Regions from separate parts of the Homo sapiens genome. Here region 2 is linked to region 1. A link means that fine-mapping ties the variant in region 1 to the expression of a gene that starts in the linked region. Tissue or cell type: lung. Region 1 holds a variant in brackets; the other region holds the start of a gene. All regions are shown on one strand. Distances are from middle to middle.

Region 1 (5,757 bases):
GTATGGGAAGCAGGAAAGACTAGAAAAAAAGGTCTCTGTCACTGGAGCAAGAGGATTTATACTTTAGTGCCAGGTCTACAGCACATAGCTGGTGGACCTTGGGTAAATCACTTTTGTTACCCACCACACTAAAACAGACAACACACGTTTACTGACACCAACTTCTATTACTCGGTTATTTCTTGTCCCCTCAGAACTAGCACACGTAATTTTCACCATTTCCTTATTTTATTATGTATGTATTTATTTTTTCCTCCTTTATTCTAGGAAAGATTTGGGAAAACTTACAAAGGAGAAGAAGACAAAGAAAAAATAAGTTGAATAAAAATATATTACAGGGAAAATTAGTACCCTCAAATATGTGCCATAAGTTTCTCCCCGTTTATTGGAAATGAGCTGTTTGTTGGTCTCGGAGCTTTCTAGGAAGCTAATGAAGCAAATGAAGTCATGTAACCTGAAAGAAGAAAGCATCCCAATCATTCTGGGGATAAAATGAGCACTTCTTCCTCCTTCTAATAACTGATAGAGATTTCTTTCTTGGATACTAATAAAAGGACATTGAGAGATGTGGGAATCTGCATCCTCAACAACTTCACAAGAGTGAAGATGCCAGTCATTTCTTAAGGCCATTATTTGTATTATTCCTCAATGCAAGAGAAGGACACAGTGCAGTGTCCGTAAATTCAAGACACCCTGCTTCTACTGAGGGATCAGAACAATGTGCTACAAGTATGCATCTGTTTGTTTTAGGCTTGACCTGTTGATAAACTTGATGTTAGTCAGACCAGCTGTTCTCACGGTGTAGTAGTCCTGAACTTGCAATATCACTATCACCTGGGAACTTATTAGATATACACATTTTTTTAGCTCAACTCAGGCCTATAGAATCAGAAACTCTGGGAATGGAGCCAGGGAATCTGTATTTTAACAAGCTCTGATGCAATTTGAGGACCAGTGTGATATAGAGAGGAATGAGTAGATCGCATGTCCTTTTGACAATTACAGGAACGCTATTTTTTTTTTTTTTTTTTTTTTTTTTTTTGCCTTTGGTCCTTGGATTAGAGTCAGGCAGCAAGTAGTTGGAAGATACATTGTCTTGGCAGGAGCCTGGAGGACAAATATTTATATTATCAATTTAAAGCAGATCCACATACTTTCCAAACCCACTCAGAGGAGAGTCTGGTTGACATCCTTCCTCTTCTGCATGCTAAGTCTCCCCAGATGGTTTTTGATCTCCCTGCTCTATACAGTGGGGTGCTGGGGCAGGCCAACAGTGGGGCCAAGTGTGTCCTCTGAAGATACCTTCCTTACTGTGTGCATTTATTCATGGCTTTTCTTTAAATTGTTCATGTGTGTTTTGCAAGTATGTTCATTCTTCCTCCCAAGATGGAGTCCTTCCAAGCTGTAAAATTATATGACTATTCTATTAGGTAGGAATAGAGTTTTAAAAGCCCTAAAGCTGAAATAAACTATAGAGATAGTATAATACAACCTCCTCATCTTACAGATCATAAGTGAGTGGAGAGGGGAGCGATTTCTCTCTAGGTATTGCTTAACTCAGGCCCTGGCACACAACAGGTTCTCAATGACTCTTAGTTGAATCTGTTTCTTGACTGTATATAGCGTTTTCATAATTCTCACATGGCTTTTAACATTTTATCTCCATAAATATTCATGAGTATAATTATCCCTATTTTCAAATCAAGGAACTCAAACTTGAGTGGCTAAGTGTTTATCAAAATTGTACAGATTTTAATATTACAAATCCAGAACTGGAACTCAGGCCTCTTAAGTTTAGGCCCATTCACCTTTCTCTTCTGCCATGATGACTAGAAGTCTGTGGATCACACACTAAGTCCCCCAAAGACATGCAAACATATATCAAATTGAAAGACTAAGTTTTGTGTAATAGTGGCCATGGCCAACCTCAAAGGCGAGGGTTTCGGCTTTTTCAGCGCCTCAGGGCCGCATCTCTGAGTAAGAACTGGCCAAGTGACCTTACCCAAACTCTACCCGCTGCAGAGCAAGTGCAGGATGTGGCGGTTTTTACCAGACTCCTCTGAGAGGTATAGCTACTGGACTGTCAAAGTCAGCTAAACACAAACAGAAGATAAAGGCATTTCTGTACCTTCATGTTTCTACATATGTAAACATATTTTGGCACACATATAAATCTGTATAAATATGTTGAAACTACAATATCATTTCTGTTATAAGCAAAGTGATTTGATCTCCTCAGCAAAGTTTATCTAAACAAATGCTGCAAAAGCTAGAGGAAAGAGAATGAGGAACTGTCAGAGGAAATGCAAATTTTTTTTTCACTCAAGACCACAAACAAACTCAGGAGTTCCTCTGTAGCGTAAGTCTTAAATTCAGGATCTGCATCTGACTAAATGTCATGCTTTGTTTTCTGTTTTTTGCTTTTTGGGTTTTTCATTGTTTTCGTTTTGCTGTGACCTTCCCAAAGATCACAAGGCTACTGAAAGCCCGTAAGGTAAGTTGTTGAAAATTTTTTAAATGAGCTCCTTCCTCCAGGCAGACATAGCACTACGCCAGGGAGCATAGCTTCAGGAGTAAAGCAGGGGCTGGGGTTCTGCTCCTACTCACCCCTCAGCTGGGCACCTTTGTGCAGGATATACAACCAACTCAACTGTACATGGTGGCCCTATCTTTACGTGCAAACCCTGTGGGTATTATAGCTGTGGGGCCATTCAATTCAATACAGTCAGTGTCTGGTGGTGCATCTCATGTATAGACATAAACAGAAGCCTTGCTTTCTGCTAAGCCAAATCACCTTTAAATCAAATAGATATTGGTAGCCAAGAGTAACATACAAAACTATGTTTGCAGAACTGTTCCACATACTGCAATGGAAGATCACTTCTTCCAACCCTCTTATTTTATAGGATATCTCACTGCATAAATCCAGACTGATACTAATAATACTTATGATAATACGAGTAATAGCTAAATAGTAAAAATAGTTAATTCTTACTATATGCCAGGCATCATTCTAAATATACACCTCATAACACCTCTTTAAGGTATATTACTATTATCTCCATTGTACAAATGCAGAACTTCTCTGACACACAAGGGAGTTAAGTAACCTGCTCAAGATCACAGCTAATACAAGTGGTAAAACTGGGGTTCCAATCCCCGAGTCCAGTTCCAGAGTCTGTGCTAATTAACCACTGTGACACTTTCCTAAAATGCTGGAAACATGCAGAATGCCAGGATAAGTAGGCGTGCAGTCGAATGGAAGTCCTGCAAGGGATTTTACTCTATCATATGGCTCACTCTTTTCCTCCCTCCTGTAGAACCGGCCCCAGTC[T/C]CTTGCCTGCCTCAGCATCCCCACGCCGAGGGGTTGCCTCCATCCCGAGTTGCAGCAAGAGTTGAATCCGAATCACCCCTCCTTGCTATCTGGGAAGTGTATTTTCTGGTTTCAAGTGGGACAGAAAACGGTTGTGAGACTGCATATTGGTGGCAGGGAACCCGCCAATGGGTCTCACGAAAAGCCTGGGCTGTTTGCAGACCCCGCTCCACCTGGCCCCTCTGTCCTCCTCTCCCCACCGCAAGGAGCCGCCGGCCTCTGGAGTTAGCCAGGTCCGCATAAGCCTGCTGGGGCGACGCTGCTCCGGGCTGCCTCCGGGTGGGCCGGCCCCATTACCGCTGATGCGGGACACTAGCCCAGCAGAGACCCCATTAACCGCGCCGCCCCACCGCTCGGTGGCATCTGCGAATTACTCCGTCACTCGGCGGCGATCGCAAGACCCCAAGTCTTCTCATTTCCTCGTAATGCTCTAATGGTCTGCTTCCGTCGCCATGACAACACGAACACAGCTCCGCCGGGCCCCTCCGACTGCCTGAGGTGTGAGCAGAAGGCGCGTGTGTGCCTCTCAGGGCCCCTATGCGGTCTGCCCCGTTAGCGTTGCTGCGATGTCTCCGCCACTGCTCTTCGCGGTGGGCAAACCCGGGCGCCTGAAAGGGAGGAGCGGTGACCCGAGGTGGCCAAGGCCAAGCTGACACTTCCCATCTGGCAGCTGGGGACAGCTTCCCCTCCCTCCTGCTCTCCTTCCTCCCTCCTCTCTTCTCCCTCAGCTCTGCAAATTGGTGACCCCCCGCAACCCGGGGCCCATAGAGGCTGGAATGGAGTCTGGAGACCGCAGCTCCACCCTGCCTCTCCGTCACTGAACGTGTGACCTTGGGGAAGCCCTTTAGCTCCTGGAGAGCCGGAGCCACCTAAGAGTGCATTCGATTTAAGGACGCATCTCCTCTCTGCTCAACAAAGAGGGAGGGGTTCCTGCACACGTTGGATTTCTGCCCTCATGGAGCTTACAGATTCATTAGAGCATTCCAGAAAATGTGAAGACTTGGGGAACTTGAGATTCTAGAGTGGCAGAGTGATTTACATGCCACTGAGCGGCTGGGTGCCTGACCTAATGGAGTCTTACCTAGACCTTGGCTCTTTGAGTGCCTTCCCACAACACTTGACTAAAGTCTCTGGAGCAGGGTCAGATGTGACCCATATTCTGTCCTTCTAGAAACTAACTGCAGAGTGCATACTTCTCCTAAATGTACCTCTATTCATTTGGTTCTCCAGTTCTAGACACTCATAACCTTTTAGAATTTGGATTCTCACAGTCACCATGCCATTTCACGCATGCCTTCTGTTTATACAGCATACTGTACATTCCATAAGCATGTATTCATGCCCACGTCCAAGGCTTTGGTAACTAAAACATGCTTGCTGAAAACTATAACTGTATTGCCTGAATTCCTGCAGCATTTAATATTCCTTTTGTTTGTGTCCCATGGAAAATAGCACCTCTAATCTTGGTGAGTTGATTTGTTATTATGTTTTCAATGATATAACTAATGAAGTGATCTTGATCAAGTCATTTAACCTGTATGGCCTTTAGTTTTGGTAAATGCTCTAAAAATAATCGTTAAACTTAACTGAAATAGAGAATTGGACTAAATGAGGTCTACAGTTGAATCACCGGTGGGAAAACACCTCGCATTTGCATGGTGATCTTTACTTCCTGAGGGAAGTTCATACACTGATTTCTGGAGACTGTTACTGTTGTTCTTGAGTACACATCCTGTTTGACTAATGCAAGGACGGTCCCTTGCCTTACTGCCTTATATTGTTCTCGGCATCCTCAGGAACATGCCCTGTGTGTAGTGGCCTGAAAGAATTATTTGTTGATGATAAAGGTGAGGTCCAGGAAAGATAATCTAAGATTATCTGATTTCTTGTGAACTTCTTGAGAAGCTGGATTTAAAGACCCTAGCTGGTGCAGAGGTCTGTTCAATTTTCACTAACCCTTCTCTGTTCTCTAGTGATGACAGAGAACAATGGAAATGAGCCTAGAGGAATAATGTTACTGCAGAAAAGTCAGTAGTTTCCATTTTTATTAAAATTCATTCTTCCCTAACTGCCATCTGTTTTTCTTTTGGGCCTGGCCAAATGCTTGGAGGTGAATGGATCAATGCTAATTTACATGACTGGTCCAGCTAACTAGGGCCCCCATGCCCCCACATTTCCAATACACCCCTCAGCAAGGTTTTTACCAGAATATTCCAAACCAATAGGCCTCTTCCTCCATCTAAAACCATCAGCAGGTATAGACAAGCCCCAGTGTCTGAAAAGTAAAGGAAGGCCTCTGAAAATTCAGCTCTTGGGTACAATTTGAACTTTTAGCACAACCAAGTGCAGCTGGAAATCTTGAGACTAAACTAGCATTCATGCAT
Region 2 (5,757 bases), 140 kb before region 1:
CTCCAGATCTAAATCACCAATCCAGATCTCTCATCTGAGCTCCAGAACTCCAGCCACTGCCAGGACAGCTCTATTATAGTATATAAGCTCACTCTCCCAAAGCCTGACATATCCAAAATCAAATTCATCCATCAATCTCACTTCTCTTCTACTCTTCCCAAACCCATCCATATTCCAAAGCTTCACATCTTTCTGTCTACAATGATCTTCTTTCTACTCTCCCTCTAATCAGTGTCTCACTATTCATTAAGAAAACTCGGATCTCATGTTTCTATTTATAAAATGTCTAGGTGCAATGGAGCAGTCTCCTGAACCTACATTCTTTACGGTCCAGATGAATGGCCACTTCCCAGGTGAAGTCTCCCATAACCCCTCCTAGGCAGAAGGACCTTTCCTTCCTCTGGGCTCCCAGAGCACTTAATCTGAAACCTTCTTTTAGCCGTTTCTACATTCATCTTCATTTCAAATCCAAGTCTCTGATGTCTCCGTACTTCTGAAATATTCCTACTTCCCAATACATTTAATAATTGTACATCCACCAGAAAAAAAATACTAGCACCCTAAATTTCCCCTTTTTTTGAACTGACTAGTGCCTTTTTTATGGGTTTCTCATCTAATAGTAACAGATCATACTTCCAGCTTCCTGGTAGATGCTACACCCTCACTCGGTTATGTTAGCTTCTATGTTATTGAAACACTCTATTAAATGGTGTGGGCACTTCTAAGTGATGAGAGAAGATATCATCATGCTTCACAAAGGGGATGACTTTAGAGTCAAATAGATGTGCATTTGATTTGGGTTCTATACTTATTAGATGTGTGAACTTGAGCAAGCCACTTAACTTTTATGAGCCTCAGATTCCCCATTTGTCAGTGGAAGGGTAATACTTTCTTTGAAAGTTTCCTACTATGCTCTTTCCCCTTTCCCTCCTCCATGAGTTTGCACATGCTATGCCTTCAGCTTAATTCTCTCACCCACTTTTTGCTGGGAAGACTTCTGATTATTCAGGCCTCAGCTTAGATGCTGCATACCTTAGGAATTCCCCTAGCCCTCAAAGATCAAGTTAGTTGTGTTTTCCATGTGCTCACTGCCCAAATTCTTGGCACTTAGTCCTTGAATTGTAATCATTTGTGTCTTGCTCTTTCTTTCCCCCTTTGAGGAACTGGTAACTCTGTTGAGGACAGGGACCATGATTTGTTAATTGTCACCTACCATCTTTGTCCTACTTCATCCACTTTTCACCCAAAAAAAAAAAAAAAGCCAGAAAAAGTAAGCCACCTCAGCTAAGGAATTCATAATTCTGAGATTCTGAAGAAAATGTCAATTTCTCACTGAGCGTTTATTACCTGAATGCATTACAACGTTTCAGCTCTTCAAATTGCTGGCTCCGTTCTTGCACTGTGTTAGGCAGTGGGCAATAATTTGCTTTTGGTACAGAAATTGAGTGATGTGTCTTCTGAACTGATGTTAAAACCCAATAGTTTCCAATTTTATAAGATTTAAAGCCAGTTTTGTATATGTGAAACTACCCAAATCACCAAGAGAATTAATTTTCTTAGGAGATTCTCATCGGTAATAGCAATTTCCACAGTTTGTTTGGCACCCCTAGTGGTAAATATTTTATTTTAAAAACTCAGCCACATATAAATTTATTGTAACAATCTAGGCACTTTGTCATAAATAAAAGCAATGATAACTGTGGTGCTATCTTCTATTTACTTCAAATGTCACTCCTGAAGTGTACATTTATAGAACATGGTAATTCAATGAGGAAGCTCCAGGGTCAGATGGCTCAGGTTCCATTACCATCCCTGACACTCACTAGTTGTGTGATCTTTGGAAAGTTATTTCATTCCTCTGTTACTCAGTTCCCAGTCTATAGAGTAGCAATAATAGCCTCTGCATTATAGAGTTATTGTATGGCTTAAATGAGCTAATACATGTAAGGGCTTATAACAGTGCCTAGCACCTGGTATAAACACTCTATAAATGTTAGCTATTGTTATTTGCCAGGAGTGAATCAAATATAAGAAGAGTGTTTGTATAAGATTACCTTTAAATTCCCTGCCAATCCTGAGGTTCTATGTTTCTATATCATTCCAGTCCCTTAGCATTCCTATTCAGTAGGGAGGGGGCAGCATTATCCACATTTTACAAACAGTAAAATTGAGCCATAGAGAAGCAAAATGTCCAGTAAGCAAGTGGCAGTCTGAAACCAGGACTCAGATTTTTAGATGTAAGTATTAGGACTCTTTCCGGGAGGCTGTGTGGCTGTACATTTAAAAGAGAATGTTAGATATCCCTTATGAGCCTATGAGCAGTGACCCCTTGATGCCCCTTCTCTGCCAAGGTTCTCCATAAATGTGCATCAAGGTCACTTCTGTCTCTACTTCTGAGATGATCTCAGGCCATATCTTTTCAGATATTTTTCTTACTAGCTTTACAAAAAAGCTATATTGTGGAGTTGGATGAAGGGCCAGCTCCCTGTATCCTCTGCCTCTTTAGGCATTCCCATGCCTGGGTTGTGCTACGTATACACATACTTCACCTGGCTGCAGACGCTGACTTTTTGGAGGGTTCCTTCTGCTGAGCCCGGACCTCAAACCACTTGAGAACCCCACAACTGACCTTATTCCAAAACATTCTATCCCAACCCATTCCACCCTGGATTTCTCCTTCAATCATGGGCAAAGGATCTGCAAAAGCTTCCATCCTCTCCCTTTCTCTTCTTATCTGGGTTGGTCAGAGGGAAGCCTCTATCTTCTTCAGGACCCTGCCTATGCAGAGGCAGCTCCAAGAGTTGGGTGCGGGGAGTATTTCTGTGCCTGAATCTGGACTGTTCAAGAGGATTTAGGATGCTTTTCTTTTCTGTCCACTAGGGGGCTGCTTGTAGGGGGATGGAAAAAACGGAGGCTTAAAAAAATCATGCTGCTGAAATTTCAGCAAGAGGGGAAAAGAGAGAGCGCGTGAGAGAGAGAGAGAGAGAGAGAGAGAGAGAGAGAGAGAGAGAGAGACAGCAAAGCAGTCCCAGGCTTCCTCCTCTCTTTCACGTCAGAGGCAGGAACCGACTGTGCTAAGGCTGTTGGCTCAACACCCAGAGGAGACGGGCAGACCCAGGGAGAGTGAGAGAAGGGGGTCCTCTCTGACCCAAGGAATTACCACTAGTGGAGTGAAGCCACCTGACTTTTTGATCTTATTTTGGTTGCCTCCTCATTCTCCTTCCACCCGTAGCCCTGACAGCTTGGGTTTCATTTCTTTCGTGGAGCCTTGTCTCTTCCTCCCAGAATAGGAGGAAGGGAAGAGAAGGGAAAGAGGAGGGCTCTCTAGGTGAGCGCATCAGCTGGCTCCAGCCTGAGCAAGCAAGAATTTTCTTCCCAGGAAGCTCCTCTCGCTCCCCGGCCGCCCACCCCCAGCCTGGGTAAGTCCAGAGCACTCGCTCCTTTGATTTTCTGGCTAACGTGATTTCAGCACCAAGGAGAGCTATGAGATGCATTTTGGTTCCTGTGTATCTGTGTGTTCTGCAAGGCATTTGGCACTAGGGTTACATCTATTTCTCTGCTGCCAGTAGAGTCGGGTTCTGCGTAGGGAAAAGAAAGGCGCAAAACTATGTTTACCGAATTAAAGGGGGATTGGACTCTGGCCTTGCGGGTGTGTGTGTGTGTGTGTGTGTGTGTGTGTGTACTGTTGCATAAGACAGGTGAGGTCTGAGCTAAATTGCGGGTGGTTTCTGCGTGTCTCCATGTAAGGCTGTTCTTTTTGTCTGTAGATAAGCGAGATGGTTTGGGGAATTAGTCGTGCACCTTCTTTAACTCTCTCCCGACAAGCCATCCATGGTGGGAAAGAGTTGCAAAGGAAGCCTGGGGGGTTGGGAGTGGAGGTAGAGTTAAAAGTTACGCACCTCTGAGAGAGCTTTAAAGAGGTGCTTTGTAAAATGTCAGTTTCCTAGTATTCTCTGGGCTCTTGCTGTGGAGAGAGCCCAACCTGACCTTTTACTTTCTCTTCTGGTGTGAACCCATGGTAAGTGGGCAGGTGCAACAGGTGAAGCTCAGGCTGGGGCGGCTTTGGGGGGTTGAGGTCCCTTCTGACTTCATGGTGGTAGGAAAGTGCTAGTGTCTTGAGCTTTGCAGAGACTGGCTGGTGTGGGTTATATTACATTTGCAAGGAGGCAGGAGGTACCCTCCACTTTTATGCCATCTTTGGCTATGGGTGGTTGGAAAGAAGACAAAGTCTGTTCTGCCCTGTTTTCTGGGGCATTTGGCAGTGAAAAACAACTAAGAATAAAGGTTTGTCTCTATATGTCTAGGGTGAGCAGAAACAAAATTAGACTTGTCCCAGACTCAGGAGGGCTTGAAGTGGTACTCTGTTCTCCTCCAGCACTGAGAGGCTCTGCAAACAGGAGCTCATTATTACTTCTTTCTTCACTGCTGCTACTTTTTGCAAGGTATTACTCTGTCTCTCCTGCTTTCTGCCTCTCTGAAGTATGTTCAGTCAATTCCCTGCATCTGCTTTGGTATTGTCTTGGAGACACTATAGGCCTGCCCCTGCCCCATTCAGTCCTGGCCACACCTACCTGGTTGAGTCATTCAACAAGTGGTGTTGAGGATTTCCTTCAATCATTCAAGTCTCCGTGGAGCCAGCATCCTACAGGGAACTTGAAAGAGATGTGGCTTCTTGTAGGAGCAAGTCTTCCCTTGATTTAACCCCTAACTGTTTATGGTTCTGGTCACTTTCTTCAAGTGTGTTGAGACAGGGGAGATACATAGGCAAGGTGGGGTGGTTTCACTCTTTCCAACCCCAAATGGACCCTAGAATGGTGATTCTTTGTCTTATTTTTAATTCAGCACAATGGGCCCCTTCTCCAAGATGAAGAAAATACTCTCTGCCTCTGGCTGGGGAGCCTTCTGGGTGAGAGACACAGTTCTGAGTGAAATGGCACCACTTTTCTTTTTTACTATGCTTGGCATTGGATCCAGAAATCTTAGCATCTCCCTAGAGTGGCAGGAAGTAGAATGCATCCAGGAAGACAGTGAAGTCAGAGGTTGTAAGGGTAGGGAAGAAAGACTGAAATAGACAAATGCAGAGCATCAGAAACCAACACTGACTCATTCAGTATTTTAACATTCCAAACCTCCTGTCCTTGAAATCTTCCAGTTTGAACAAGTGAGTGGATAGATTTCTGCATGACACATCACTGAGGATTTTTAAAAAATTATGCCCTTGCAGTGGACCCTGTCCAAAACCACAGTTTATTACTGAAGTCACCATACTTAGTAGTCATTATCTCATTAATGCCCTTAAATTTTCTCTGAAAAAAAAGTGCTCAGTGACATTATTGGACCCATTTTATAAATGGAGAGACACAGACGCTTAAAGTGGGAAGCCAGAGGATAGCGAAAGCAGAAATAGAACTTCTAGCCTGCTAATATTCCCTCACCTAGGAAATGCAGTAATGCTCATGTGCAGGAGAGAAGGAATGGATTGCTCCCCATTGGATAGACTTGCAGCCAAAGCCTTTTAGGGAACTCAGTGTGGAGCAATGGCCTCTCTCTGGTGAAGAATGAGAATCAGCCAGAAGTCTCAAGGTGCTGCTGGCCTTTACTTCTCAGCTAAGAAGATGGCCAAGAGCCAGGTAAAGAGCTCTCTGGGCTTACTGCAAAGAGAGAACCCTGGGCTGGTGGCATCTAGGCTGAACTGATGTCGTGCACCTGATTGTCACATCACCATGCCCCAGAAATCCCAGCTGAAGCCACCCTATC

The links. PIP is the estimated chance that this variant, and not a neighbour inherited with it, causes the effect.
Region 2: it holds the start of TNR, and the variant in region 1 is fine-mapped to the expression of TNR in lung (TOPMed, PIP above 0.99).

What each region holds. Positions count from the first base shown.
Region 1 is chr1:175,597,489-175,603,245 of GRCh38, reverse strand. All of the region lies in intron 1 of TNR (tenascin R), which reads left to right. Among named protein-coding and RNA genes, the nearest start is that of TNR, 140 kb to the left of the region's middle. RefSeq lists an enhancer at 2,517-2,586. The variant T/C (reference allele first, on the strand shown) is at 3,335.
Region 2 is chr1:175,740,888-175,746,644 of GRCh38, reverse strand. TNR (tenascin R) reads left to right here and starts at 3,050. Exons shown (of 23, transcript NM_003285.3): 1 at 3,050-3,419.